4 linked regions of the Homo sapiens genome follow. The protein of the gene in region 2 interacts with the protein of the main gene of each other region in a pairwise test. Each region holds a gene or a part of one and is shown on either strand. Other genes may lie near its edges.

What was found.
Region 1: the proteins of UBXN2B (region 2) and VCF1 interact in binary tests that used the Homo sapiens proteins (3 or more experiments, as listed by UniProt).
Region 3: the proteins of UBXN2B (region 2) and XAF1 interact in binary tests that used the Homo sapiens proteins (3 or more experiments, as listed by UniProt).
Region 4: the proteins of UBXN2B (region 2) and PAX5 interact in binary tests that used the Homo sapiens proteins (3 or more experiments, as listed by UniProt).

The regions. Positions count from the first base shown.
Region 1 is NC_000017.11:73,229,391-73,236,457, reverse strand, and holds the start of VCF1 (protein VCF1), read left to right. Parts: upstream 1-4,063; 5' UTR 4,064-4,151; coding exon 4,152-4,372; intron 4,373-6,840; exon of another isoform or gene 6,841-7,067. Other genes in the region: MTNAP1 (mitochondrial nucleoid-associated protein 1), read right to left, coding at 1-975.
Region 2 is NC_000008.11:58,414,351-58,421,377, forward strand, and holds part of UBXN2B (UBX domain-containing protein 2B), read left to right. Parts: intron 1-2,499; coding exon 2,500-2,603; intron 2,604-7,027. UniProt on the Homo sapiens protein: Adapter protein required for Golgi and endoplasmic reticulum biogenesis. Involved in Golgi and endoplasmic reticulum maintenance during interphase and in their reassembly at the end of mitosis.
Region 3 is NC_000017.11:6,759,020-6,766,046, reverse strand, and holds part of XAF1 (XIAP-associated factor 1), read right to left. Parts: intron 6,792-7,027; coding exon of another isoform or gene 6,573-6,791; exon of another isoform or gene 6,386-6,572; coding exon 6,329-6,385; intron 5,642-6,328; coding exon 5,446-5,641; intron 4,162-5,445; exon of another isoform or gene 4,140-4,161; coding exon of another isoform or gene 4,006-4,139; intron 3,893-4,005; coding exon 3,807-3,892; intron 1-3,806. UniProt on the Homo sapiens protein: Seems to function as a negative regulator of members of the IAP (inhibitor of apoptosis protein) family. Inhibits anti-caspase activity of BIRC4. Induces cleavage and inactivation of BIRC4 independent of caspase activation.
Region 4 is NC_000009.12:36,961,265-36,968,291, forward strand, and holds part of PAX5 (paired box protein Pax-5), read right to left. Parts: intron 5,461-7,027; coding exon 5,285-5,460; intron 1-5,284. UniProt on the Homo sapiens protein: Transcription factor that plays an essential role in commitment of lymphoid progenitors to the B-lymphocyte lineage. Fulfills a dual role by repressing B-lineage inappropriate genes and simultaneously activating B-lineage-specific genes.

The sequences.
Region 1 (7,067 bases), on a different chromosome or scaffold from region 2:
CCGTTCCTGCTTTTCTGTTGCAGACATACTTTTCTCTGCATTTCCTTTGCTCCCACACGTCTCTACTCCCAGGGTAAGTCCTTTCTCTTGTTTCTCCATGACTTGGATTTTACCTAATGAGCTCATTTTAAGGCTTAAAATGAGGGATTCTGTGTTCTTTTCTGGAGTCTCAGTAACTGTAACATCAGTAGGGACTCCTGAGAGGTGATCCCTGCCTTTGGAATCTCTCTCATTGCTTAATAATGTTCTTACCCTTTTAACCCCATCACTGACATTCTTTGGAGAAATATGACAATCACCAGTAGGCACATCTAGTAATTTTACTAGAAGTTCCTGTCTTTGGGGATCAATTTTGTCCAATTTGAGATCACCAGAGGTAGTTTGTACATCATTAGGTAGAGTTGAGGAATATTTTCTATCTTGATTTGACAAAGAAGGTTCTATTGAGCCAACCAGTAAAGACGCTCCAGCTTCTGAAGGATTACATCGACTTTCTCCTGATTTAGGCAAATCTTTGGCAAGTTCTCTTTTAGGAGAGGTTTTCTCTGATGCGTAAAACTGAGCCTTGGTTTCTTCTTGGAAAGTAGTCATTGGTTTAGTATTTTTTAACATTTTGAAGGATGGTTGGATTGGATTCTTGATGTCTTTATCTGCCTTTGTAGTAGCTGCTCTTTCCAAACCAACAGCTGGCAGTGGAAAGGTCTTCACTGTCTGTTCTGGTTTGTCCACCACCAACTTAGAATTTCTTTCTTCATTCTCTGTCTCTAACTCTTTCCCTTTAGCTTTAATTAAATCTTTGATTGGTCCTTTCATCTTTTTAGCACGTGGGAGTGTAGCTGGCTTGGACTGATAAACTTTTTGATCAGTAGGTATGGTTGGTCCTATCATCTTACAGTATGGCAAGTGGGATTTTAATCGTTTAAATGGCTTCTTACAGTAAGGACACACTTCCATTCTGGGTGGATTATCACTCATCCTATTCCTGAAAAAGGTAAATGTGAGATTATGAGAAGCACATAGTTTGTACATACCAATATTTTACTTATGTGTTGTATCTTTTAAATTCATTTGGAACAAGCTAGATGTTTGCTACTTACGGTTACAGCAAGTCAACTAGTCATTATATGAGTATAAAAAATTGTTTAAAAACCCTTAAACACGTTATTCAAGGACAGAATGGTAAAGAATAAAAAACTTAGGCCAGGAACCAAAGGTTATTTATTTATTTATTTATTTTGGAAACAGAGTCTCACTCTGTCACCCAGGCTGGAGTGCAGTGGCACAATATCTGCTCACTGCAAACTCCGCCTCCCAGGTTCAAGCAATTCTCGTCTCAGCCTCCCAAGTAGTTGGGACTACAGGGGCATGCCACCACGCCTGACTAATTTTTTGTATTTTAGTAAAGACGGGGTTTCACCGTGTCCGTGTTACCCAGACTGGTCTCGAACTCCTGAGCTCTGGCAATCCACCCACCTCAGCCCCCTAAAGTGCTGAGATTACAGGCGCGAGCTACCACGCCCACGCCCAGCCAAAGGTTACTGATTACAGCAGAGGTTTCCAAAGTGATAAATAGAATATGCACTAGGGTGTAAGAAGAAAATATTAGAATTACCACAATCAAAGAATGAGAAATGAAGCTCTACTAACATTTAGTAATATGCATATACACACACACACACACACAGATATACATAAAATGTATGCATAATGCACAAATATATACATGGCCAAGGACACAGTCCTGTTTTTCACTTATACTTTTTTTTTTTTTTTTTTGAGACAGAGTCTCACTCTGTCACCAGGCCGGAGTGCAGTGTCGGCTCACTGAAACCTCCATTTCCCAGGTTCAAGCTATTGTCCTGCCTCAGCATCCCGAGGAGCTGGGACTACAGGCATGCGCCACCACGCCAGGCTAATTTTTGTATTTTTAGTAGAGACGGGGTTTCACCATGTTGGCCAGGATGGTCTCAATCTCCTGACTTCGTGATCTGCCCGCCTTCGGCCTTCCAGTGTGCTGGGATTACAGGCGTGAGACACCACGCCTGGCCTACTTATAGTTTCTAGTACAACAGATTACTGGCAAATTAGTTTGACATCTTTGTTAAACATATACGATGTAAAAAATTAAAAAAAAAACATTTATACCATGTATATTTGTACCTGTTATTCTTTAGAGTCCAGAAAAGAAAATGTTTAATTCCAATGTTTAGTTGAAAGTTATTTCCTTTCTACATCTCTTATTCTTTCTATAAAGTTCCAGAGGGCAGGAAACATATCTATCCTGCACACAGCTGTATGTAAAAACCTAGCACTGAGCCTGGCATACAATATTTGTTCACTTAATTCTTTAGATATAAACGTTTAAATATTATTCAGTACTACAACTGATAATATCTTCTGACTACCAAAGAGATTAAAAAGGGTGACTGAAACCACTTACAAAATAGACACAATCTTCACCAATCCATTCAATAAAGCAACCAACCCACCTTATCCTGTACGAAGTCCTTCAAAACAAAACTGTTTTCTGCCAACAGATTACAGTAATCATTTTTACTTTGTTGTTGTTTGGTCTTTTTTTTTTTGAGATGGAGTCTTGCTCTATCACTCAGGCTGGAGTGCAGTGGCGCGATCTCGGCTCACAGCAACCTCAGCCTCCCAGGTTCAAACGGTTCTCCTGCCTCAGCCTCCCGCGTGGCTGGGATTACTGGGATTAAGGGCGTGCGCCACCACGCCCAGCTAATTTTAGTATTTTTAGTAGAGACGGGGTTTCACCATGTTGGCCAGGCTGGTCTTGAACTCCTGACCTCAGGTGATCCACCCGCCTCGGCCTCCCAAAGTGCTGGGACTACAGGCGTGAGCCACCGCGCCCAGCCTGCTGGGATTACAGGCGTGAGCCATCATTCTTTCTTTCTTTGGAGGTACACACTAACAGGATGAAAGCCACAGACTGTTTGTTTACAATAATACACACAAATGAAGCCAGTCCATGGACCTTCGGCTAACAACGTTAGGAAGGGCTTGACACCTGCTAGACGTTTCTGCCTCCACTCCACCTCACACTCAACCCTACTTGAAAGATCCCGGTACATTCCCACGATAACGTCTATACGTGGGTGTCTGTTTTCTTACCCGAGCTCCTCCAGGAGGATGCTAGTTTTGTGGGTGCTTCTCCCGGATCCCCATGCTTCCCCGATCACCGTTCCCGAGTGTGGCAGAATGAAACGTGAATGTCAGCCTGTGTAGGACACGATCAGACAGGTGACTTGGCAGCATGCACAGTGAGTAAACGCGGCACGATACTGAACCAAATAGAAACACAGGTTCCGGAAAGCAGAGAGTTAAGACCTCCCCAGCCTCCGGGCTCAAGGAGGACCTCAATAGTTCCACTAATCCTCACCCTCACCTCCGGCGCTCTCCAGCCGCCTTTCCCTCCTCCCGCTGCGTTACCAGCCTGCCCACCTCCCCGCACCCTTCCTTTCCCTGAAAGCTGTTCTGATTCTGCCAGCTGTTCTGATTCTGCGGAGTGGATGGGGTCGGCCCGGCAGCTCCTGGGTCAGGGACAGCCGTTCCCGCAGCCCCACCGAGGATTTCCTCCTGCGGTTCCAGGAAGACCCTCCGCCGGCCCCGGCACCCGATTCCCTACCCTCTCCGCTCAGGAGAGTCTCCCCCAGACTTAGAACGTGGGCCGCGGAAAACAAACCCGCCCTTGCAAGCTCCCCACAGAGCACCGTCCTCACCTCGGAAGACCTGAAAGCCCAGGCGGCCCCGGCGACAAGCCCCCCAGGGAAGCCCCCCAGGCCCCTGCCCAACCCCCGGCCAAGGAACCTCGTCAGGCCGTCTGCACCACTGCCGGATAGGTCCGCCTGTTTTAAAATATGTTACACGGATTCAACTCAAATACTTGTATGATATTATTATGACATAATTGAATTTATTTGAAACCTGGCTTGACTTTTATACCGTACCCTCCGTTGGCTGTGAACAGGCGAGCGCTTCTGCCACCCCAGGGGAGGTCCTTTCTCCCAGAAGCTCCTAGTCGCTCCTCCCGCTCCGAGCCCGCCTCTTCCCGTGGGCGGGGTTACCAGTCGGTGCGGTTGGGATGGTGCCACTGCGCAGCCGCGAGAGGGCGGTACCACGGCGGCAGCGACATGGGGGGGCGCGGAGCAGACGCCGGAAGTAGTGGTGGTACGGGTCCGACTGAGGGGTACTCGCCACCGGCTGCGTCCACCCGAGCGGCTGCGAGAGCCAAGGCCCGAGGGGGTGGGCGTGGCGGCCGCCGAAACACAACCCCCTCTGTTCCCTCTCTTCGCGGAGCGGCGCCGCGTAGCTTCCATCCGCCAGCTGCCATGAGCGAGCGCCTCCGTCCCAGGTGAGAGGGAAGGGACCCCCTTTCCATTCGTCGCCTGAGGATCTGGGAGATAGAGCCGAGGGGGCGCGCGAAATGGGGGTCGGAGCAAGAGTGGACCCGGCGGGGCTCCCTGTGGGGTGCACTGCGGGCCGGGGGAGGAGGGGAGAGGGATGCGCGAGTGATCGGATGCTTGGTTCCTGTGGGTAGCTGGAAGGTGACTCTCCGGGGTCCAGGTCTCCCGCCCCTCCATCTTTTTTCCCCCCTGTCTTTTCCTATTTGGAACGAAGTGTGATCGGTCCCGGAAGAGAGACGGTGGCCCTAAAGCTTTCCTGTCCTAAATTTAGGAGGGTGGGGGGATGGGATAAACGTCTCATCTTGGAGAGGGAGCCCCCAAAGGCTTTTGTGAGGGCACCGGGCGGGGAGCTGCCGGCTCCCCAAGGTCAGAAAGAAAGGTTGGGCTTAACCCCGCAGCAGGGAAAGATTCGGTTAGACCGAAGAACTTGTGCCCTGAACGGTTGTGAACACAGAAGGGCAGATGACCAAGGCGGGTTATGGATCTTCTCTTGACTGTGGCATTAAGAACAAGCTGGATTCTAAACTGTTTGGATTGCGGGGCCGTTTGACTCCGAAGGCGGGAGGAAAGATTTTATCGCGATGCACTCGCTACCTTCCCGAGGGAGCCTGGCCTCGGGACGCGGGTCTTAAATTAGGGGTTCTGTGCTTGACATGTACTACTAGAGTCCGGACTAAGTTGGGATTTCTTAATTTTTTTCTCTCTCTTAATTTCCTCTGCAAGAATGTGTGGAGGAGAAAGTTGGGAAAGGTTACCTCAGAATGCTCTTCCTGTTACGGTCTTTCCACAAGGATCCTTCTCTGAAATAATTATTTCATGTGATTGAAGTTCTCAAAAGTATTCTGAGTTTATTTGGTCCCATAGTGAAAACCTAGGGTTCCCCAAGCTGCTGCATTGGATTATTGATTTGGGTCATGTAGCAGGTGGAGCATAAAGCCTCTCCTTGTATAGAAAAGAAGAGTGGACTAAATTTGAAATTGGGGGCCCAATTACAGACATGCCATCGGAATTAGGAGCAAGATCTTTAGATACAGTGAATCTGACCCGACTGCCATATTATTCTTTCCCAAACCCAGTTTATACTTACGATATTCTCTTGGGGTGTCTCACATATCTGAAAAAAAATCTAAATATTTCCTACAAATAAAAATTCTACTGTACATAACTAATCTGAATGCATTTATACTGGCAGTAGATTCCTTTTATCTTGTACACAAATAATCTCAACATGTTTTAAAGAAGTTATTTGATTTGGACAGGCTTTTCCTGCCAGTGTTTAATGGAGTATGATGGGCCAGCTCTGCCAGCTCTAGGATGGTCTAAGACGGTGGTTTTTCGGCTGGGTGCGGTGGCTCACGCCTGTAATCCCAGCACTTTGGGAAGTCAAGGCGGGCGGATCACCTGAGGTCAGGAGTTGGAGATCACTCTGGCCAACATGGTGAAACTCTGTCTCTACTAAAAATACAAAAAAATTAGTTGGGCCTGGTGGTGGGCACCTTCATCCCAGCTACTTGGGAGGCTAAGGCAGGAGAATCGCTTGAACCTGGAAGGCGGAGGTTGCAGTGAGCGGAGATCACTGCACTCAAGCCTGAGCAACAAGAGCGAAACTTCCATCTAAAAAAAAAAAAGGGTTTTCAGGCTCTCCCACAGTAGATTGGATAGCCGCAGAGAGGTGAGTGTGTAGTGAGGGAGTCCCTGCTTATTGATTGATTGATTGGTTGATTGATTGACTGATTGATTGACAGAGTCTCACTCTGTCGACCAGGCTGGAGTGCAGTGGCCCCATCATGCCTCACTGCAGCCTCAACCTCCCAGGCTCAGGTGATCCTCCCACGTCAGCCTCCTGAGTAGCTGGAGCACAGGTGTGAGCTACCACACCCAGCTAATCTGTGTATTTTTGGTAGAGGTGGGGTTTCACTATATTGCCCAGGCTGGTCTTGAACTCCTGGGCTCAAGGGATCCACCCGCCTCGGCATCCCAAAGTGCTGGGATTACAGATGTGAGCCACCTCACCAGACTGGGAGTCCCTACTTTAACAGATCCTTTATCTCTTATATAGAGAGAATTTTTTTACAGTAAGAAAGAAAGAGTTCTGTTACTTTTTAAAATAAAGTTTGAAAACCACTAGTTTCCATACTCTTTTTTTTTTTTTTTTTTTTTTTTTTTGAGATGGAGTCTCACTGTGTCGGCCAGGCTGGAGTGCAGTGGTGCGATCTCGGCACACTGCAACCTCTACCTCCTGGGTTCAAGCAGTTCCCCTGCCTCAGCCTCCCAAGTAGCTGGGATTACAGGCACACGCCACCACGCCCTGCTAACTCTTTTGTATTTTTAGTAGAGACAGGGTTTCACCATGTGGGCCAGGCTGGTTTCGAACTCCTGACCTCAAGTGATCTGCCTGCCTCAGCCTCCCAAAGTGCTGGGATTACAGGTGTGAGTCACCGTGCCCAGCCCATACTCTTAAGATTATTTCTATGCCGAGTCTCTAGGAGATGACAGGAAGGTTGGAGAGAAATGAAATAATGCAACGTGATGGAATCAACCATCTGTAGAAGTAACAGATGCTAACTGGTAATCTGCACCTAGATGGTTAGGGAAGAATATAATCAGTTATAGGGGTGCCTGCTAAAATCATAACCTGGTCTG
Region 2 (7,027 bases):
AGCGTCTAGAATTGGTTACTCTAAGGCTGAGAATTCCAATACTTTTAATATTTTGCTATATACTTTATTTTCTCACCCGATTCCTTTGCTTTCAGGTTTCAAGTTCTTCACATTTCAAATTCTAGAGGAAAGATTATCAATACTTTACTTACATACTTTATCCTCTGCATATTATTGAAACATTTTCTTAATTACGTTTTGAGATTTTTTTGTTGTGTTAGTTTTGACCAGTACTTCAATTAATATTTATCAATTTAAATTATCATTTCCTCTTTTGATGTAATGTCATCTATGTTAAATAATATAAATTAAATTTCTTTGTAGTATTTACTAATGAACTCATGCCATATGATGCCATATGGCATCAACTCCCTCTAAATATTACTCATTTTCTTCTAAGTTTTTAATGATGTACCGTTAATAACTAGGATCTTTCAGCCAGGTAGACTCTTTAATATCATTTTCCTCATATTCCTCTTTTCTTAATGTATGTTCCACATTCCATGGGGCTAGTGGCATTTTTGCTTTTTTAATTTATGTCACCAAAGAAAATTGTTATTTGATTGGAAGCATTTATTCAAATCTTGTTAAAGCAAAAAGTGTTTAACAAATATAACCCCAATTTAAAATACATCTATCTATATCTATTTCTGATTCATTTTCTATTATGTTCTTTATATAATTCAACGTCAATTTGTTGCCTTTTAGGTACAATATTAGAAACAATTTGAGAAACTTAAAATCTAGTTGGGGAAATAAAACAGCAAAAGTACACAAGTAATGACAACATAATGCTTAATATGAATGTCATTGGGGGTATTACGTGCTATGAGTATTTAGAAAAAAAGATATTAAGAAGATTAGAAAAGGTTTTGTGAAGGAGAGCTGAAATGGGCCTTTGAAATACAGATGACATTTTCATTGATGAGAATAGGAATATCATAAAAGTAATTCATAAAGCTGACATAATGAGCTTAGAAGGAAATCCATAAAATAATACTACTTTAAAGAAATTTCAGGGAGGTAAAATTTCTGAAAACTTTAGACCCTAGTCATCAGACTGTGTATGTGCATGTCTGTCTCTCTCTCCTCTATCATTTGTTTGTTTTTTGTTTTGTGTTTTTGGAGGGGATGGAGTAGTAAAGGACCATAAGGAGATATAACACTGTAGGAAGAAAAAAAAATCTTGGGGAAAATGAAACACTGATACAATCATTACTAAACATTTAAGAATAATATCTTCTAGTGATGGAACACATGCTTTGTGCTTTCCATACATTATTTAATCCTTCAAATGACTACGGTGATTTTTTATAGGCATTTGAAGATGTGGTAACTAAGGCTCAGAGAAATTAAATAATTTGCCCAAGATCACACAGGAAGTGCCTAAGTTACGATTTGAATTCAGTCCTTTTAGATTACCAAACACTTTTATAATTCAGATTTCTAGCAAAGTTGCCATTGTACAAATATGAATGTTACTGAATGTGGGAGGGTAGGGGTAAAAAAATTAGAAGTCTTTCATTTTGTTTTATTTGTGTATATTTTAAAAGTTGACTAATAGAATTTTCAAAGAATTAACATTGCCCCAATGCCCTGTTCTTCTTGGAGGTAGTTTTCATATCATTTGTGTGTCTAAAAGGAGCATTTTAATCTGTTTTGTTATGATTTTGGGTTTTTTTGTTTGTTTGTTTTTTGGGTTTTTTTTGAAAAAAACAAAAAAAAAAACCGGAGATTATGGTCATGCCAATTATAATTGAATAGCCACAGGAGCATTAAAGAAAGTTGTTGAGTTGTTGTCCAAAGATGTCAAAAGTCAGAAAAAATTCTATACAATACTGAAATATTGGATTACTTTTTAAAATTCCATTTTAAGAACAAATATAATTTTATTTCATTTTGAAATAAACTATCCAGCCAATATCTAGAATGTATAATTTGGTAATATTACTTTCTAAATGGTATATAAACCATATATAATTTATGGTCTTGTTTGTTCAGAAACTCATTTTCCTAAACACGATGAAATTTATAAGTTTGGTAGACTTTTAAATAGAATACTTCTGAAATTGTTTTATATGCTTGGAGTTTGAAAACTTGAATAGCTGAATGAAACTATTTTATGAGATCTGATGGAAGAAGCTGACGTTAGTGTGAACATCTTCAGGAATTCTTAAAAGAATTGCACAAGAATTTTAGGTTTAAATTTGAAAATGGTTTGTTACCTAAAACAGATTTTGACACTGTTCAGTAGTTAATTGAAAATAATCAAGTAATTATTATAACTTAAAGTTATTCTAATAGATGTGGCATTTTGGTTAGTTCTATATAATGAGATGCAGTAAGTTTATTTCAGAAAGGAATCATCTGAAGCAGCAGCTTTTTTCATGAAAAGTCTTTACCACTCAATTTTAAGTTAGTGTTCTATACATAACTTCTAGTTGTATGGAAGAGGTTATTCCTAGTGTTATACTTTGTAACAAGCCTGTTATTATGTAGTTGGCCTTGGCAGAATTGTATGAAGATGAAGTGAAGTGCAAATCTTCCAAGTCTAATAGACCTAAAGCCACAGTCTTCAAGAGCCCACGGACACCACCTCAACGGTAAGTTTTATTTTGTTTTGTTGTAAAAAGAAATTATAATCCTTTCTAAAAATTTACTAACTTCAAATTATTTTAAATGGCCTTCTTCAAGGTTTCTTCAATAATTTTTAAAAATTATTATTCCAAGATCGAGGCAGATTTGGATAAAAAATAGAAATGATTAATATCATTTAGGTACTATTAAAACTTTTACAATCAGAAAGCCAAAAGAAACTTACGGAAAAATTACCTTAAAATACCTAATATTTTGGTAGATATCATATGAAATTATATCCTGAATACTATTTTTCTTGGGCACAATGGTTCTTTAATATTTTTTGAGTCATAGGACTCATTAAGGGTCTGATGAAAGCTATAGAATTCTCCTCTCAAAACAACTTTCATGTGCAAGTTTGTCATTCGTTTTTAAGGATATGTGTGTTTCTTGAAGCCACTCCATGGAGCCTCTGCAGGTCTTTTGTCCTCCATTTAAGAATCTATGATTTTTGAAGTCTGTCTCTTCTTCCTTTGGGTGATGATTCCTCTAATGTGTGACCTCCTAAATAGTATTTGTTGTTATTAAAATCCCTGAAGTATAAAAACAACCAACTGTGAAGACTTAAGAGATGAGAACCAGGTGTCTTTTATTGCTGTGAGTTTTCTTGTTGCCAGGAATATTTTCATTAACATCTTTTTAGTACTGTAAATACCATCCCTGGGGAAGAAACGTCAGTTTTCCCATTATATCTTATTCTCAGAAAGTCTATTTTATAAGTTTTCAGTTCATCAAAAAGCAAGACTAGTAGAGTAAATACTGTGTTTACTTCACCTATATTCACCAAGTTGGTACAATGTTACATTGAACTTGTGCACGCATGTATTCTCTCTCTCTTTTTTACTCAACTATTTGAAAGGAAATTGTAGCCATCATGACACTTCACCTCTAGATACTTCAGCATGAGTCTCCCGAGAAGAAGCACACACTTGCAAAATTGATAACACCTTACAAAATTAATAGTAATTCAGGCGGGGAGTGGTGGCTTATGCCTGTAATCCCAGCACTTTAGGTGGGCCAAGGTGGGCAGATCACTTGAGGTCAGGAGTTCAAGACCAGCCTGGCCAACATGGCAAAACCCCATCTCTCCTAAAAATACAGAAATTAGCTGGGCATGGTGGCACGAGCCTATAATTCCAGCTACTTGGGAGGCTGAGGCACAAGAATCGCCTGATCTTGGGAGGCAGAAGTTGCAGAGAGCCGAGATGGCGCGACTGCACTCCAGCCTGAATGATGGAGAAGGACTCTGTCTCCAAAAAAAAAAAAAAAAAAAAAAAAATTAATAGTAATTCTGTGATGCCATTTAATATATAGTTAGTAGTCACATATCTCTTATAGCTTTTTCTTTGGATTTAGGATTCAACTGAGGACATTGCATTGCATTTAATTATTCCTGTTTTGAATTTCTGAATACACAGAACTCTTCCCACCTTTTTATTGTTGTTTTTAGCTCAGCTACATAATCTAAAATTTATTATGTTGACTTTTTTAGAGAGTCTAGGCCAGATGTCTTATAAAATGTCTAACATTGTAGATCACTGTTTCCTCATGATTAGATTTTTATTAGAATTTTTGTCGGGTATGCTAGATAAGTGATATTGTCTGCTATTTATTACATGACAACAGGAGTCATAATTTCAGGATTTTCCACCATTAGTGATATGTTCATTTGGTTAAGGTGCTGACCACCACAGCACTCCATTGTAAGATACTGTGTGTCCTTTGTAATCAGCAGTTTGGTATCTTGACACTAGTTGAACATCCTATTCTTTCATTTAATTCTTACCTTTATACATATAAAATACTGTATTTTTAGCTGCTTCTTTAATTTGTATATTCTCCCAAGTCTTGAAAGTACTTAATATGTATCTCTGTACTTGCATTTTACTCACTATTTGGCCACTGTTTCCCCAGTTTGAACATAAGTTGAATGACTTAATATTTGAGTTCTTATCATAAGATTACTGTATTAATATTTTCCTTGCTATTCAAATATAATCATTAAGATATTTCAGTGAAGGGTTTTCTTTTATGCTGTCTGAAACAATGCTGTGATTAATAGGTATAATTCAGTAATCCAGTTTGTAAGGATTTTGTGCCTCACATTTGATTTCTAGAATAATTTATCTATCAAAAGAACTGAGTTTCCTTAAAATATATAGGTTGAGACGTAAACTGTGTTTAATCTGTTTATAATACAATGTATAGCAGATTGTTCGCAATCTTTTTTTCTACGTATGATATCTTCTAATGCTAAGTGTATACTTCCTTTGATTTCATATTCAATATCGAAATTTTCCCAGTTTCGTTGTATTTCTACAGGTCTGTTTGGTACAGAAAACAGTGCTTATTTTCATGGTCCACCTCCTTGGGCGGTATTTGAAATCAAAACAGTTATTGTCTCATTGTCATTTTAAGCCAAGACAGTTTCATTATCTGAAACTCTGGACATAAGATGGTCTGTGTTTTTAATTTACAAGAGGAGTTACGTAATCTACAGAAAGACCCTCAGGATATAGTCTGATGCCTGTTTTGACATATTCATCCATGAAAAGTTAAATATCACAATCAGAACTTGGATATGTCCTCCACAAGTCATTGTATAGTAGTATTGCTTTGAGAATTAAATGAGATAAAGTGAATAAGATGCCTAGCACAGAGTTGGTACTTAGCTGGGCCTTAAAAGGATTTAAGATATTAGGAGTTAGATAAGCACAGAAGACAAGGGACAAAATTCCAGGAACAGAGAGTCACATAATCAAAATGACCAGAGGAACCAGAAAAAGAACCAGCAGAACTTTAGTAGCTTAGTAGCAAATAAGGTTGGATAGATGGGGGTGCAGCCAGGAAGGCTTTCATAGGCATGTGACCTGTGCTATTGCACAAGGCCCCATGCTTAGAAGGGCCCTGTGCTTGGAGTAATGCTTTGCTGTTACTGTTTTGAAATTCTTAATTGGTTTTGAACAAGGGGACTCGATTTTCACTTTGCACTGGGTCTCACAAATTATGTAGCCAGTTGCGGATACAGCCTTGAAGACCAAGAAGATAAGTTGCCCCTGTGTAGAAGGCAGTGGAAAGTCAATTTGTCTTTTAATAAAAATTTAGTGACAAAACTATAATACAATGTTAAAAGCTTTGACTCAAGATGGATACATCTCAGTTGTAATTTTTTTGTTTTCATATAAGAAAATGGTTTTATTCCTAATTTTTAGTTCCCATACAGTTTACAAATACACTTTTACTCTGATAATACAGCTTTGCAACTAGCAAAGCAGTTGCGCTAACACCCATAAATATAGGTGGGGAGACAATTAACATCCACTAATGTTTCTCTACATAAAGTATTCTTTTAATGTCATTTTTTTAAAAAACAGTTGCAAATAGACTACATAATGTAAGTGGGCAAAAAGGCAATTAAGTGAATCTCTTGAAACACTAAATGTATAATAAACAGCATATTATCAACATTTACATGATTCACATCAAAATGATGACATCCTAAAACATATTCCCTTTAAAAGATTTATCAATAAAATATTAAATATCTTTTAATACTCTGGTACTTCATATACTGCAGGAAAATTAATTGTAGGTCTAGTCATCAGCTTAATCAGGGATCCTTTTCCCATTAGCTTTTATTAATAAAAGAATTACAATTAGGTCACAAATAAACAGACAAATTATTAATTACATGATTTGAGGCTTAGGATGAAAACTTGTCAAAATTAGTTTGATATACAGCAAAGTTATATGACCCACTAAAACCAACTGTTCAATAGTTTTTGCCTTGTGTGAACTGCCTGTAGTGAAAAAAGAACAAATTTTTAATGATGAAAGATACAATAAACTATATTTTGGAACTTTTCAAGAGGAAGAAGGAAAAGCTATTTCAATAAAATTAAGGGCAAATACAGATCCTGACAAAGGCATCCTGACATCAGGGAGGCCATGTGCTTGCTATATGTAAAACTTGATTCCCCCAACAACATACAGAAAATAAAAACTGCACTGGCTTTGTAGTTATGTCTACAGTCTAAGTTTCCCTTATGGATACTAAGCTAAAATAAAACACTTCACAATTGCAAACCTTTCCACATCCCCCTGAACTAAAAATAACTCAAGATATTATTAGTTTTAAAATCCCCAATAAAATTACCTCTAAAAACAATCTTGACCATTTTCTTGACTGTTTCCCCGAAGCAACTGGGCTCTTTAAAGAATGCACACACACCAAGAAAGTCCTACACATGTTTTCTCATCCCCATTTAGCCACATTTCAAAAGACCTTGATTTCAGTGGGAGAGATGACCATAAGTTTCAGGAAGGCCACACACTAGACATGAAGCACCTTTTAGTTTTTTTTTTTTTTAAAGCTATTAAGACTGTGAAA
Region 3 (7,027 bases), on a different chromosome or scaffold from region 2:
GTGAAAAGGCCCTAAGGCATGGTATGCTCAAGAAACAATCAGGAGGCCAGTGAGCTGAACAGGAGTAGTACATGAGATCAAAGAGGTGATGAGATAAGAAGGGAGGCAAAGATGACATAGATCTCTAAAGCCACTGTAGTTTTGAGTTTGCATAAAATGGGGCAAGAATCAGTACAGAGATCTGAACAGAGGAGCCAAACAATCTGACTTGTATTTTTAAGGGATCACGTTGACCTCTGTGATGAGAATAGACTGTAGGGGGCAAGGTGAGAAGTAGGAAGACCGTTTAGGAGACTGCTGCAGCATCTGGGCTAGAGAAGATGATGGTTCATACCAGGGTAGCAATGCGGAGGGAAAGAGAAGTCGAGAGTGAACCTGAGATTTTGGCCTGAACAACTGGAAAGATAGAGTTGCCATCAACTGAGATGGGCCAAGCTGTGGCAGAGAGGATTCCATTTCAGATGTGTTACATTTAAGATGTCTATCAAGCATTCAAGTGAAGATGCAGTAAATAGTAATATACAAATCTAGAGTTTGGGGAGAAAAACCCAGACTGAGATATAAATTTGGAAGTGTCTGACTACATATGGCTTTTTAAAAAATTTTTAAATTTTTATTTATTTATCTATTTTTTGAGATGGAGTCTCGCTCTGTCGCCCAGGCTGCAGTGTAGTGGCGTGATCTCGGCTCACTGCAAGCTCCGCCTCCTGGGTTCACGCCATTCTCCTGCCTCAGCCTCCCGAGTAGCTGGGACTATAGTCACCCACCACCACACCCGGCTAAGTTTTTGTATTTTTAGTAGAGACGAGAGTTCACTGTGTTAGCCAGGTTGGTCTCGATCTCCTGACCTTGTGATCCTCCCACCTCGGCCTCCCAAAGTGCTGGGATTACAGGCATGAGCCACCATACCCGGCCTTACATATGGCATTTTTAAAAATCAGGAGGTAGGATGAAATAATGAAGGCAGTGAATATAGGTAGAGAAGAGACCAGAGACTAAGCCCTGGGGCCCCCCAAAATTAAGAGGCTGGGGAGGTAGAGAATGAGAGACCACCAATGTCCTTGAAAACCAGGAAAGTGTGGTACCCTGGAAGCCGAGAAAGTCCACTGAGGAAGAGGGAGTGATGAGCAGTAAATGCTTCCCATAAATTGAGAACTGAGAACTGAGCATTGGATTTAGCAATGCAGAGGTCATTGATTTTGACAAGAGCAGATTTGGTTAAAATGGAGAGCCAGACTGGAGTGGGAATAAGAATGAGAGAAGAAAAGATGGAGGCAGTTACTTATAGACAACTAGCTCAAATGTTTTTCTACGGAGGGGAACAAAGAAACAAGATGGTAGCTTATAGGAAATGGGATCAGAAGTATTTCATGTTTTTCTGGCTTTGGGTCATATTAATAAAAAGTTAAAGACTGAAAACCACAAAACCACCTAGTATACATGATTTCAATCCTTAATTTTCAAAATTAAAAAAAAATTCTTTTCGTGCAAGGCCATTGATATATAAATATTCAATAGTGGTACCCCTTTAAAAAGTTATTGTAAGAAATGTTAGGACAACCTAGAGATGTGAGACTTTGTTGTTACCTGCGTGTACAGCTCATTTAACCTCTCTCTGTTGCAGGACAGAGAGGGGAGAATTGCTGGAGCAGTGTAGCAAAAAACTTGTGTGACCTTGTGTAGGCAAAAAGAGAGGGTATATTATACCAGTAGGAGGGGATAGGCTTTAGAGAGGCACATAGGAAGCTCCTCTATGGTTAAGAGGTGGGAAGGCAAAGTAAGTGAGTGTGGATGCTGCCAAGGAGATAGATCTGGTGTTGGCTGGTTGTGGATGTCTTCTTTTCCTGAACAAGGAGATAAACCATTATCCCCATTTTCCTCAAAAGAAGAAAGAAGCTCAGAGAGGTTACACAGCCAGTAAGGGGCACAGCAGAACTAAAATTCAGAGTTTCTGAGCACAAATCCAGTTCCATGTGTATTGGAGCTCCCCACTTCCCTGTAGCCTTCAAATAAGTGTGTAGGTGCCCTGGTTGCCAGGCTGGACATTTGAAGGGAAGTAGTCAGCTTTACTCTTGTTTTGGTGCTCACCAAGTATTTTCTCATTCAAACAGAACACATGGACCACTTATAGGATCGAATAAACATCAGTACTAAGGAAAACAAGTCAGTAGGTGATTTCCACGTACAGCCAAGGCTGAGAATCCCGTGGCTGGGGCAGCGCATCTCAGACTTGAAATGCCTGGGAAATCATGTGACCCTGCATATTCTGATTTAGCATTTCTAGGGGGAGGGCCTGAGATTCTGCATTTCTAACAGGATTCCAGGTGATGCTCATGCAGCTGGTCCACAGACTGCACTTCAAAAAGCAAAGAGCTGAAAGGTGGAAACAATCCGAATGTTTACCAACAAGTAGAGAAACAAAATGTGGGATGACCGTAAAAAGGCCATTAACTTTGGGAGGCCGAGGAAGGCGGATAACCTGCGGTCAGGAGTTTGAGACTGGCCTGGCCAACATGGTAAAACCCCGTCTCTACTAAAAAAAAATACAAAAATTAGCCGGGCGTGGTGGCAGGCACCTGTAGCCCCAGCTACTCCGGAGGCTGAGGCAGGAGAATCGCTTGAACCCGGGAGGCAGAGGTTGCAGTGAGCCGAGATCACGCCACTGCACTCCAGCCTGGGCAACAGAGTGAGACCCTGTCTCAAAAAAATAAAAGAAAAGAAAAGGCCATTAAAAGGAATGAAATGCTGACACATGCCACAACTACAACACGGGCAAACCTTGAAAATGTTACGGTAAGTGAAAGAAGATGGTTACATAAGACCACATATTATATGAGTCTACTGATGTGAAGTGTCCAGAATAGACAAATCCATAGAGATAGAAAGCAGATTAGTGGTTGCCAGGAACTGGGAAGATGAGGGAATGTACAGTACCTGCTAATGGGTATAGGATTTCTTTTTGGAATGATGAAAATATTCTAGAACCAGATTGCACAACATTGTGAATGTACCAAATGTCTCTATAGTGATGGCAAATTTTACATTATACGTGGTTTACCACAATAGTAAAAAGAAAAAGAAAAGAGCGAAAAGCTGGATCGTCTCTATGGTTTCTTTAGTTTTGATATTCTGTAGTTTTAAGCACTGAAGTGTTAAGAAAGGTAAACAACTTTCTGCCCAAGGAGAAGGAGAAGAGTTCTTTGGAGAGAAGCCTTGGTAAGTTTCCCAAAGGGGAAATGCTCCATTCTGTGCAAAAGAAGGGAGCAACTTGGCACAGCAATGCACTAAACGGCGCTTAGGGGCTATGGAGGGAAGAACCTGTGAGTGTTCCCAGGCAAAATCAGTCAGTCAGTCAATCACGTAACTGCGCCTCTACAGAGTCCTCTTTTTGCACCAAGCTCTGATGTCAGGAAAATGGAAAAAGTCATGCAGTTTTGCAGGAAGCTCACAGTCTAATAGAGAAGACTCCCACATGGGACCGAAAACAGTAAGACAGGCCCTACTGAGGACCAAATTGCAATGTCCAGGCCATGAAGTTTGGAGATGGTCAGAGGTGATCGGGGGTGTTGGGAGTGGCAAGGGAAGCCCCTTTGAAGGGCTGGGCACAAATGAAGACCAATTTTTGTGTGCTTGATTAGCCTAAGCAAGTCACTAAACTATCTTTTGGAACAAAGCAAAAAATAAATATGGGACCCTTTAATATCCATGCTATGTAAAATTGGGCCCAGAATCTGCCTTTCCTATCACACTTTTCAGAATGTGGATGAACTATTGGCACCATTAGAAAATTACTAAGTGCTACTCACCATATGGTGGAAATACTTATTTTCTGGAATCATTTGGTTGCAATAATGACAGTAGATTTCCCTTTCAGGAGCTGAAATTCTTTCCCCTGAATAAGCAGAGAAACAACACCACAAATGATTGTCCTTGTCAACGGCTAGCCCAGCTCTCCCACAACTGCATACATGGCCTGTGCTCATGAGCACGAACTGCCCCCCGGACCTGCCTGGTCTTGACTTTCCTGCGCTGCCGGCATCCTTGACCACACAGGCAACTCTTGGCCGAATCACCCACATCATTTCCTTTATGGCCACAGATGTGCACTCAGGGCAGCAGCAACCGTAATGGAGAGACATTTTCCTGGATCAGGACTGGTTTCTAAGGAGATGAATGGAGCTGTAGCCACGGATGCCAACCCCCTCCATTCTGACTGTGCTCTTTCATTGCACCAGTTTTCAGACTCTGTGATCAGACCAGGTGTTGGTTGAACACATTTTTGTTGACAGTGTTGAAGCTGTGTTGTGTTGTGTTGTGTTGTGTTGCACTGAAGTTGTGTTGAAGACTGTGTTTGATTCTGTTGACGTCCAGCCATGCTGGGATGAAGGAAATATACATGACTCTCACAATTTCCAGGTTTCCATTGGCCAGTTTTGCCCTTGGGTGGATTGTTTATCAGGAGAAGGTTACTGTCTGGGGAGTTTTAGGCTCTCTCCCATGTTACCATGTTACCAAAACAACTAGCAAAGACACCAAAGGATCTGTCACACTGATGGTTGTGTGACAGTAAATACACCCTCATAAAGAGGTGAGTGATTCAAGTGAACATAAAATGGTACCAGGGAGCCAATACATAGGCCCCCAGGCCAGGAGCCATTGCTAACTCCCTTCTGGCCATTGTTGATAATGGAAAAAGCCCTAGATTCAGTGCCAGGAAGTGCGGGAGTCCAGTCTTATTTTTGCCTCTAGCAAGTCCCTGCTTTATTCTGTGTGTAGGTTTCTCATCTGTAAAAGGATGCAATGGATCTCTGCCAGGCTAGGACTGTGCTAGAGGTGCTCAAAGAAAGCCTCCTGTTTCCTAGGACTCCCCATGGTCCCCCCCTTTTTTTTTTGAGACAGAGTTTTGCTCTTGTTGCCCAGGCTGGAGTGCAATGGCACGATCTCGACTCACTGCAACCTCCGCCTACCGGGTTCAAGTGATTCTCCTGCCTCAGTCTCCCAAGTAGCTGGGACTACAGGCGTCCGCCACCACGCCCGGCTAATTTTGTATTTTTAGTAGAGACGGGGTTTCTCCATGTTGGTCAAGGTGGTCTCGAACTCCCAACCTCAGGTGATCTGCCCGCCTCAGCCTCCCAAAGTGCTGGGATTACAGGCATTAGCCACCCCGCCCAGCCTTCTCCATGGCCTCTTTACTCAACTTTGTGGTAGCTAGGCTCTAGCCCCGGCCTCCTAGTCTCCCTGGACCAGTCATTTGAAGGCCACAGCAGACACACAGGAAGGCCACTCTGAGGCATGGTTTAGAATTAGAATAGCCAGATGAATTGAGATCTATACAGCAAATACACTTGTCATCCGTCCTGTTGAGAGCTTCCCTTCCTTGCATCCCATCCAGGAAAGGCTCTGGCCCTTGGAACGTCTCTCTTCCACCCCAGTTTGTGTGCTTACCTTTCCCGAGCTGGGCCTGTTCACTGCGACAGACATCTCTGTGCTGGGCGAGCATGCGGTGCATGATGAACTGGCCACAGCCTTGGCAGAGCTCTGTCCGGCTGCCACAGTAGGACTCGTGGAGCTCCAGCTTGCTGAGCTGCATGTCCAGTTTGCAGAACTTACACTCAACAGGGCGCTCCTGGCACTCATTGGCCTGTGGGAGGCAGCAGGAAGGGCATGATCACTGGCCCTTTTTTTTTTTTTTTTTTTTTGAGACAGAGTCTCATTGTGTTGCCCAGGCTGGAGTGCAGTGGCTTGATCTTGGCTCACTGCAACCTCCGCCTCCCGGGTTCAAGCAATTCTCCTGCCTCAGCCTCCCAAGTGGCTGGGACCACAGGCGTGTGCCACCACGCCCAGCTAATTTTTGTACTTTTAGTAGAGACGGGGTTTCACCATGTTGGTCAGGCTGGTCTCGAACTCCTGACCTCGTGATCCACCCGCCTTGGCCTCCCAAAGTGCTGGGATTACAGGCGTGTGCCACTGCGCCTGGCCGATCACTGGCCTCTTTGACTGTAGGCAGATCAAGGACTTGTGCCCATCTCCCTAGGGAATTAGGGCCAATACGAGAAAGCAGATGAGAAGGGCCAGAGTGCGGGACTGCCTTCGGGGGATCTGAGCTCTGATGGACTCATGGACCATGGAAAACCCTTCTGATCAGTATCTGGGGGACAGGAGAACCTGTGTTATGCGGTGGGCTAGTTCTCCACTGCTCTCCAAGCCTAATGGGGTGAAAAGAGTGGTCAGGTGGAAATCTCTATTACTGGCCTCCCGTTTCCCCTTCCTCTCCTTTTCTCAGGTTGGTCTATTTGGCTGTAAAGGAGAAATCACATGGGGCTCTTACCTTATGAAACTCCAGCGAGGACTTCTGCATGCTCTGCTGACACATCGTACACCCAACCTAAACACACACACACACACACACACACACACCAGATGTGGGTCCACCCAGCACCCAGGGCCTGCCCCACATCCACTTTGGCTCACAGTGTTCCGGGTTTGGGTCTGTGAACTCCCAGAGGGCAGGGATCCGATGTGGCTACCTCAGTGTCTCTCTAGCACCCCGCCCAGTGTTCAAGAAGTGTTTGTCAGACCAGTCTGAGTTGGCAACGGCTGCCTGAGCTTGAGTATCTCCAGAGAGACAGATCAGGGGCCCCAGGAGGAATGGACATGGAAAGGCGGGAAACAGGGCTCCATCTGACTGCCTTCCAGGACCTTCCTTTTTCACATCCTCTCTTTACAGATCTCAAGAGAACAGCCAGTCTTTCCTGAAACCAGAACCTCTTGCCTATGCCAGATCCATAAGCCTGTAGGGAAAGGATTGGAAATAGGAAAACTGGAGGTAGACTCAGATTAGCATGAAAAAGGCAGGATTAACATTTCCTTTCCATGGGCTTTGTGTGGAGGGGCTAAATGACTTCCCATGGCCCTCAAGTGAGTCTCTGCCTGGGGGACTGGACCCTTGCCTTAAGTCCCCAGCCCTCACCCCAACTCCCGGACCCCATCTCTCCTGCAGGGAGGACTGGAGCCATTCCCTGACTCC
Region 4 (7,027 bases), on a different chromosome or scaffold from region 2:
GCTGATGAGAGCAGGAGGCATTTCTAGTGGTTTTCTCTGTTAGACAAGGGGCAGATCTTCTCCCAGTTTAACCTCCTGTGACCTTTGAACTCCCTGGGAGGTCAGCAGCACATCCCCTTCCCCAGCTGTCTCTCTGTCTCTGGCCCAATGGGAGGGAGGGCCCTGGCCCGTTCCATTTTGCACCCGTATTGATCTATTGGCAGCAATGGGATGGATAATTAGCCAGGAATTAGGGTTTCTATTACAGCCAGGAGGCTGCTCCAGCTGATTTATCACCTGAATAATTTACTGTGATTGAAAGGAAATTAAAATGAACTCCATTTGACAACTGTGAGCTTTTATGGGCTTTAGTGAAGGCTCAAAAGCCAGATTAATAGCCTGGTGTTGGTTAATAGTCTGCCGAGAGTAAATACGGCAGGCTATGCTCCGTAGCCTTCCTGTGGCCGCCGGAGGAGGGACCCGCTCCCAACAGGAGCGCTGCGCCGACGACAACGTCAACGGGAGTTTTACTGAAACAGATACCACTGTTGGAAACATACACACACACACGCACGCACATACACACGTGCACGCACACACACTCGCCACCAGCAGCTTTCTTTTCTTTTCTTCCTCCAACGTGATTTTTACTCACTCCATATGTAGGGAAAACAGAATTGCTTTTTCAATAACCGTTTTGAAAAGGAAGTGTTTCATTGCCCAGGCGTGGTCAACATTAACGCCTTCCACCCAGGGCAAAGCGTTTACTACATTTCCCTACAAAAGCCAGCAGCCTGGGCCCACCCACCCAGGTAGATCTTGGCGGGAAAAGCTGCAAGTGGGGCAGGCTCCGAGCTAACAGCAGTAACTGTCAGGACCCCTGCCTGGCCCCAATGAGGAATGTTCTTCCCATGGGAGACAGGGTGGGAGGATCCGGGAGGATGTGGCCTCTCCAAACCTATGGCAAGTTCTGAGAGTTCTGGATGACAGGCAGACTCTGACTGAAATAGGCCAGGTCTGGAAACCAGCTAGCCAGAAAACTGGCCCCTGGAATCGTCCTGGACCTGGAGGCCCATGGAACCATCTTGCATGAGATGAAGACAGAAGACCCTGAGATGAGATTCCAGCTCTGCGGTTCAACAATCTTGGAAACTCCTTGAATAAACAATCTGTGAAAAAAAATGTTCTAGTCTATACAATGGGGCTCCCGAATCATGCCCAGCCTGTTTGGCAGGCATTTGCCTCGGGGGTCCAATGAGAGGATGGATGTGAACGGTCTTTGTGAACTGAACGCTGTGGTGTGTAGGTGAGGAGGATCGCTGTCGTCACGTTCGGTTTCGGCTGCTGCAGCTGTTCTTGTTGTTGTCGTCATCAAAATCATGATCACTTCTACCACAGATATGGAAACTGAGGCCCAGAAAAATAGTGACTTGCTCGGCAGGGCAGAGCTAGGACTCAAATCAAGCTTCCCGACCCCAAGGCCAGTAAGTGCTCTTTGTTCCCCACCAAGCTGCTCAGCGAAAGTGACAGCAAGGCCCCCATCCAGGGCACTAGGCCACAGAGACACACACTGAGACAGCTCAATCTGCTCGAAAATGGAAGAGGCAGCCAGCCTCCGCGGCCAGCACCTCAGGCCCCCTTCCTGTCACCACCGCCATGCCACGCTGGGGCTCACAGGCGAGGCCTGTGGAACATTCACCTCTTGGAGAGCTAGCATGAGGGGCTCAAGGAACCTGTACCCTTGACTGACATCCCTTCCCAGCCTGCGGCCCCTTGCTCAGGCATCATTTGTCCAAAGTGATTGGGAATCGGGCACGAGGGTATGTCATTCATAGTCCAGTGCCTGTGTGTGGGTGCAGGGCAGCCCCGTCTCCTCACCTTCCATCTCTCCTCATTAAAACACATTACAGGGAGGTGAAGCAGATTAACCAGAAAACACTGGGTCAGTCATTATCCTGCCACACAGTTCGCCTGCAGTCGCCGTCTCAGAGCGCACAGTCAGAGACAGGCCTGCAGACGTGCCTGCTCATTCTGAAGGACACTGGAGATGCTGAGTCCTCACAGAGTTTGTAATCAGGTCTCCTCCCCATCAGACCCCATCTCTCCATGAGCCCATGGGACCTGTCCTTCAAGCCCCCCATCCAACACTGCCCCCTCAGTGCCATTGTCCTTGATGCTCCCAACCCAGGTAACATCCCCCTCTCTGGCTGACACCTCATCAGGACCCTCTGAACAGTCTCTCTTGTCCTGCGGGCTCTGAGTCCACAGCACGCTGCCCCTGCGAGACTGGACAGAGCTGATGAGCACTTGGCACTGTGCCTGGCTCCCAGCCCACGTTCAGGGAAGAAGTTAGAGGAGTGGCATGTGAGCAGGTGAGTGAGTGAATCCATGGGCGGCTTCCAGACCACTCAGGGATGAGGTCTTGCAGGCTGCGTGGTCTTCCTGGGCACTCTGAGCTAAAGGAGTTATGGTGCAGATTCTGAGTCTCCATGACGGTCATGTGAAACACAGAGGGAGTCTCACACGGAGTGTCTGTGTGAATAAGGGGTTCACAGAAACACTTGTGCTGCAGAGGCCAGGTGGAGTGCAGAGGCCTGGATCCCCGCTCTTCCCTGTTCACTTGCTGGGTGACCTCAGACATGCCCTGTCCTCTCTCTGGGCCTCTAAAAAAACAACAGGTTGAAATCTTGCCTCTGTGGCTCCTGTTACCCCTAAAATTACATGATCTTGTCAGCCATTAGAAGATAAACTTTCTGGCCGGGTGCAGTGGCTCATGCCTGTAATCCCAGCACTTTGGGAGGCCGAGGCAGGCGGATCATGAGGTCAGGAGATCAAGACCATCCCGGCTAACACGGCGAAACCCTGCCCCTACTAAAAAATAGAAAAAATTAGCCGGGCATGGTGGCGGGTGCCTGTAGTCCGTCCTACTCGGGAGGCTGAGGCAGGAGAAAGGCGCGAACCCGGGAGGTGGAGCTTGCAGTGAGCCGAGATCGCGCCACTGCACTCCAGCCTGGGCGACACAACAAGATTCTGTCTCAAAAAAAGAAAAAAGATAAACCTTCTGGCTGGGCGCAGTGGCTCACACCTATAATCCCAGCACTTTGGGAGGCCAAGGAGGGTGGATCACCTGAGGTCCGGAGTCCAAGACTAAGCCTGGCCAACATGGTGAAACCCCATCTCTACTAAAAATACAAAAAAATTAGCCGGGCGTGGTGGCAGGCACCTGTAATCCCAGCTACTCAGGAGGCTGAGGCAGGAGAATCACTTGAACCTAGGAGGTGGAGGTTGCAGTGAGCTAGGATCACACTACTGCACTCCAACCTGGGCAACAAGAGCAAAACTCCAGCTCACAAAAAAAAAAAAAAAAAGAAGATAAACTTTCTTCCACATTCTGGAGGGAAGGACAGGCCTCATCCAGGAAGGTTTCCTGATCGAGGCCCCTCTCACTCTCCTCCCGTGTCAGAGAAAATGTGCCTTCTGCCGTCTCTCAGAAGGGCTCTGAGCAGAGCAGAGAGGGTGCTTGTGATAGAAACAGACTCTCCTCCCTGAAGTCCAAGATCTAGAGTGTGTGGGGGCGGCTATGCCCAGCACCATAACCATGTCCTACCCAACAGAGGTGTCACTCGACTTGTAAGAGAAAGACTAAAATCCTCAACCCAGTCTACAAGACCAGGCCCACCTCCCCAGCATCATCGCCCGCCCATCCCTGAGCCACAACCACACCGGCTCTCTCCATTCCTCGTTCCTGCCGCCTTCCTCTCAACTCAGGGCCTTTGCACTTGCTGTCCCCTCTGCCAGGCACTTTCCCTCCACCCCCACACCCCTTCTCCTTGCTCCACTCAACCCCTTCAGGCTCAGCATAAATACCTTTCCCCCAGGAGGCCACTGAGGCCTCCAGGCTGGCTCAGCCTTTCCTTTAGGCTCTCAGAGAACCTCAGACACCTCCTCCTTAGCACCAAGCGCACCTGTAACCCATGACCCTTTAGGTAATTCTTCTATTGGGATTCTTCCACAAGTCTGTAGGCTCCCTGAGGGGAGGTCCAAGACCATCTTGTTCACTGATGTGACCCAGTGCATGGCTCCAGGCCTTGCACAAAGTAAACACTCATCATATTTGTTATGTGAATGCGTCTTGCAGCGTGGCCTTAGGCAAGTTGCTCTGCCTCTCTGGACCTTGGTTTTACCATCTGAAAACAAAGTGGCTAGAAGGTCTGTAAGAGCTCTCATAGAAACTGCTCAGACACAGACAGACTGTCATAGATGGGTGGCCCCAGAGGCCCTGCTCTTCCCTCACCACACGGTTCTCTCCAGCACCTCGCCTCTCCATGGGAGCTGTGCAGGGAGGCTACACTGCTTGGACTGACTTTTTGGAGAAGATTCAGAAGCATCCTCTAATTAGCATTTAGAGGAAACTCAGCGCAGCCAGTTCTCACCACTAGTACCAGCGAGGAAAGTGCCGAGGAAAGTTGTTGTCTGTAGGGTCTCTCTGGTTGGCCCACCAGGTGGGAGCTCTTGGCAGTCCAGAGCCATGTCTAGCCTGCAAGGTTACCTGTCAAGGCCCTGGCACACACTGGGTGTCAGGAAATAGTCTTATGAACTGAATCTGATAGTCCAGAGATCTTAGTCAGGCCTCAAGAGCCTCTCACTGGGCCGAGCCTCGTGATCTCATCTCTATAGCCACAGGTAGTGACTACTCTGCCCAGGGTATAGCAGACAGCCGGTCAGCCAGGGCTGGTCCTCCTGCTTTCTCCCTCTCTTGCAAATAACCCAGGTGGGAGTTTGTGCAATGAGACATTTCTTTATCTCCAGAATTTTGGATTCAGTCACTAAGAGAATGACAAGGCGACCTGGTGAGAGGGCAGACAGTGGGATACCCACCCGCTCCGTCATTCCATTGTTCACGGCCGGTGAGCCCCCAGGCCGCGTGCTGGTTACATATTTCCACCATCACCCTGACTGACAAGATACTGACCCAAGACCACCTTACGTGGCCCGAAAGATCATTACACCCTTCTGTCCAAAGAGCCCTTGGAAAGGACACCAGAGCAGCCAGAGAAGTCACCCACCCCCTGGCTGGCCAGCGACAGAGGCACCAGGGCAAGAAGCCACTGGAGGCCCAGACAAGCCCTCCCGACCTTATAGGATGTAGCGACTGCCCAAGTTTGGCCAAGAACACTGAAGAGACCTCTCTGAGCAGAACCTGGTGTGCCCTCACCCACACCCCGCCAGATGCCTCTGCCTTCAGGAACCTGGCTGGGCCGGTGTGGCGGTGGCAGGTGTGGTGGGCGTGCATCACGAGGCGTACCTGCTCGGGCTTGATGGGCTCTGTGGTGGTGAAGATGTCTGAGTAGTGCTGCCTCTCAAACACGCGGTCCAGCACCTCCAGCTGCTGCTGTGTGAACAAGTCTCCCCGCATCTGCTTCCGGAGGAAGTCTCTGCCCGGAAGCGAGTGGCCGTTCGGCACCGGAGACTCCTGAATACCTTTGATGAGCAGGAGAGAGGAAGGGTGAGTGGAGGTTATACACGTTGCTAAAGAAAGACAGGTCAGACCCTGAGACTATGAAGAGGACCTGACCCCAACTCCCTCCCTGACCAGAGAATACACCAGCAGGGGCTCAGGTAAGGCACTGCCTTTCCCAAGGTCACCTGCTGGTAAGTTCAGAGTCAGCCTCCCGCAGCCATGTGCCAGGGACTGTGCAAAGCCCTTTTGACAGGCATCATGTCATCTAATCCTCATGATGACCCTCAAGGTAGGTTATTTTCCCCACTTTGCAGATGAGAAGACTGAGACCTAGAGAGATTTATTGGTTTGCCTGAGGATTCGAGCTTGGGCTGACCCACAGGCTTAGTCATCCGGTGCTCCTGCCCCTCCTGTCCTAAAGACCTTCCCGGGAGGTACAGTTTTTCCCAGAGTTGAGGTCCTTACCCTGGACATTTGCTACCACATCATGTGACCGGTCAGTGAAACACTGTGCTAGGAAGACTGTAGGAAAACGGGACTCTCATACAATTCTGGTGGAAGTGGTAACAACACCTGTGCTAGACAAGTCGACAAATCTATCAAAGCCACAAATGCACATTCCCTTTGATATAGCGATTGCACTTCTGGGAATTTATTTTACAGCTCAACTTACACATGTGAGAAGTGATGTATGTACAAGGTTCTTGTAGCAAAAGACTGGAAACAACCCAAGAGTTTATTTGTGGGGGGTTGGTTAACTCAGCCAGGCATACTTGCATAATGGAAAACTGTGCAGCAGCTGAAAAGGAATGAGGCTTCCTTCTGTGAATTGATATGAAAAGATCTTCAAGATACATTGTTATGTTAAAAAATAAAAAACAAGGTACAGCACAGCATGTATAATGTACAACCTTTTGTGTAAAAAAGGAAGAAAATAAGACGATGTGCAATATAAATCTCTCCAAAGGATATATGAGAAACATTTACAGTGGTTGCTCATTCAGGGAGGTAGGAAGTGAGTGAGTGGAGGTGAGGGGGAGAGACTTTTCATGGCATGTTTTTCTTTGGTTTGGTTTGGTTTCAGAAGTTTGAATGTACTGCTTATTACAAAATGTAAATTAACTAAGTATAAGATTAAATTCCCTCTGTGTTCTGTATTGTTAGCTATTCACACTGTAACAGTCTCTGGTGATGATGCTTACATGTCAAAAGAAATATTACGAATTATCAATAAAGAAACAAATGGGATGAAATATCTTCTGTTGAGTCTCAAGCTTGAACTGTTCAAAATAAAATCAAGCACAGAGGGCAAATGTTTCCCGTGAGGAAATGGCCTCGGGGGTACATCATTCCCCGGGGCTCTCTGGGACCATATTGCTCACGCAAGGCTGACCAGAGGCTTCTTGAAACCCAGGCCCAGAGGTGAGGCATCTGCCTTTGCAGTCAGGAAGCCCTGGGGAAAACCAGCGTGGGTCTGCTCTCATGCTGAAAGGTGCCCTTACTCAAGGCCTTGTCTGACCCCTGCCCCCACCAGTGCACTGCTGCCCTAGACTAGACTTCATCCGTCACGTCAAGCTCCCACCCATG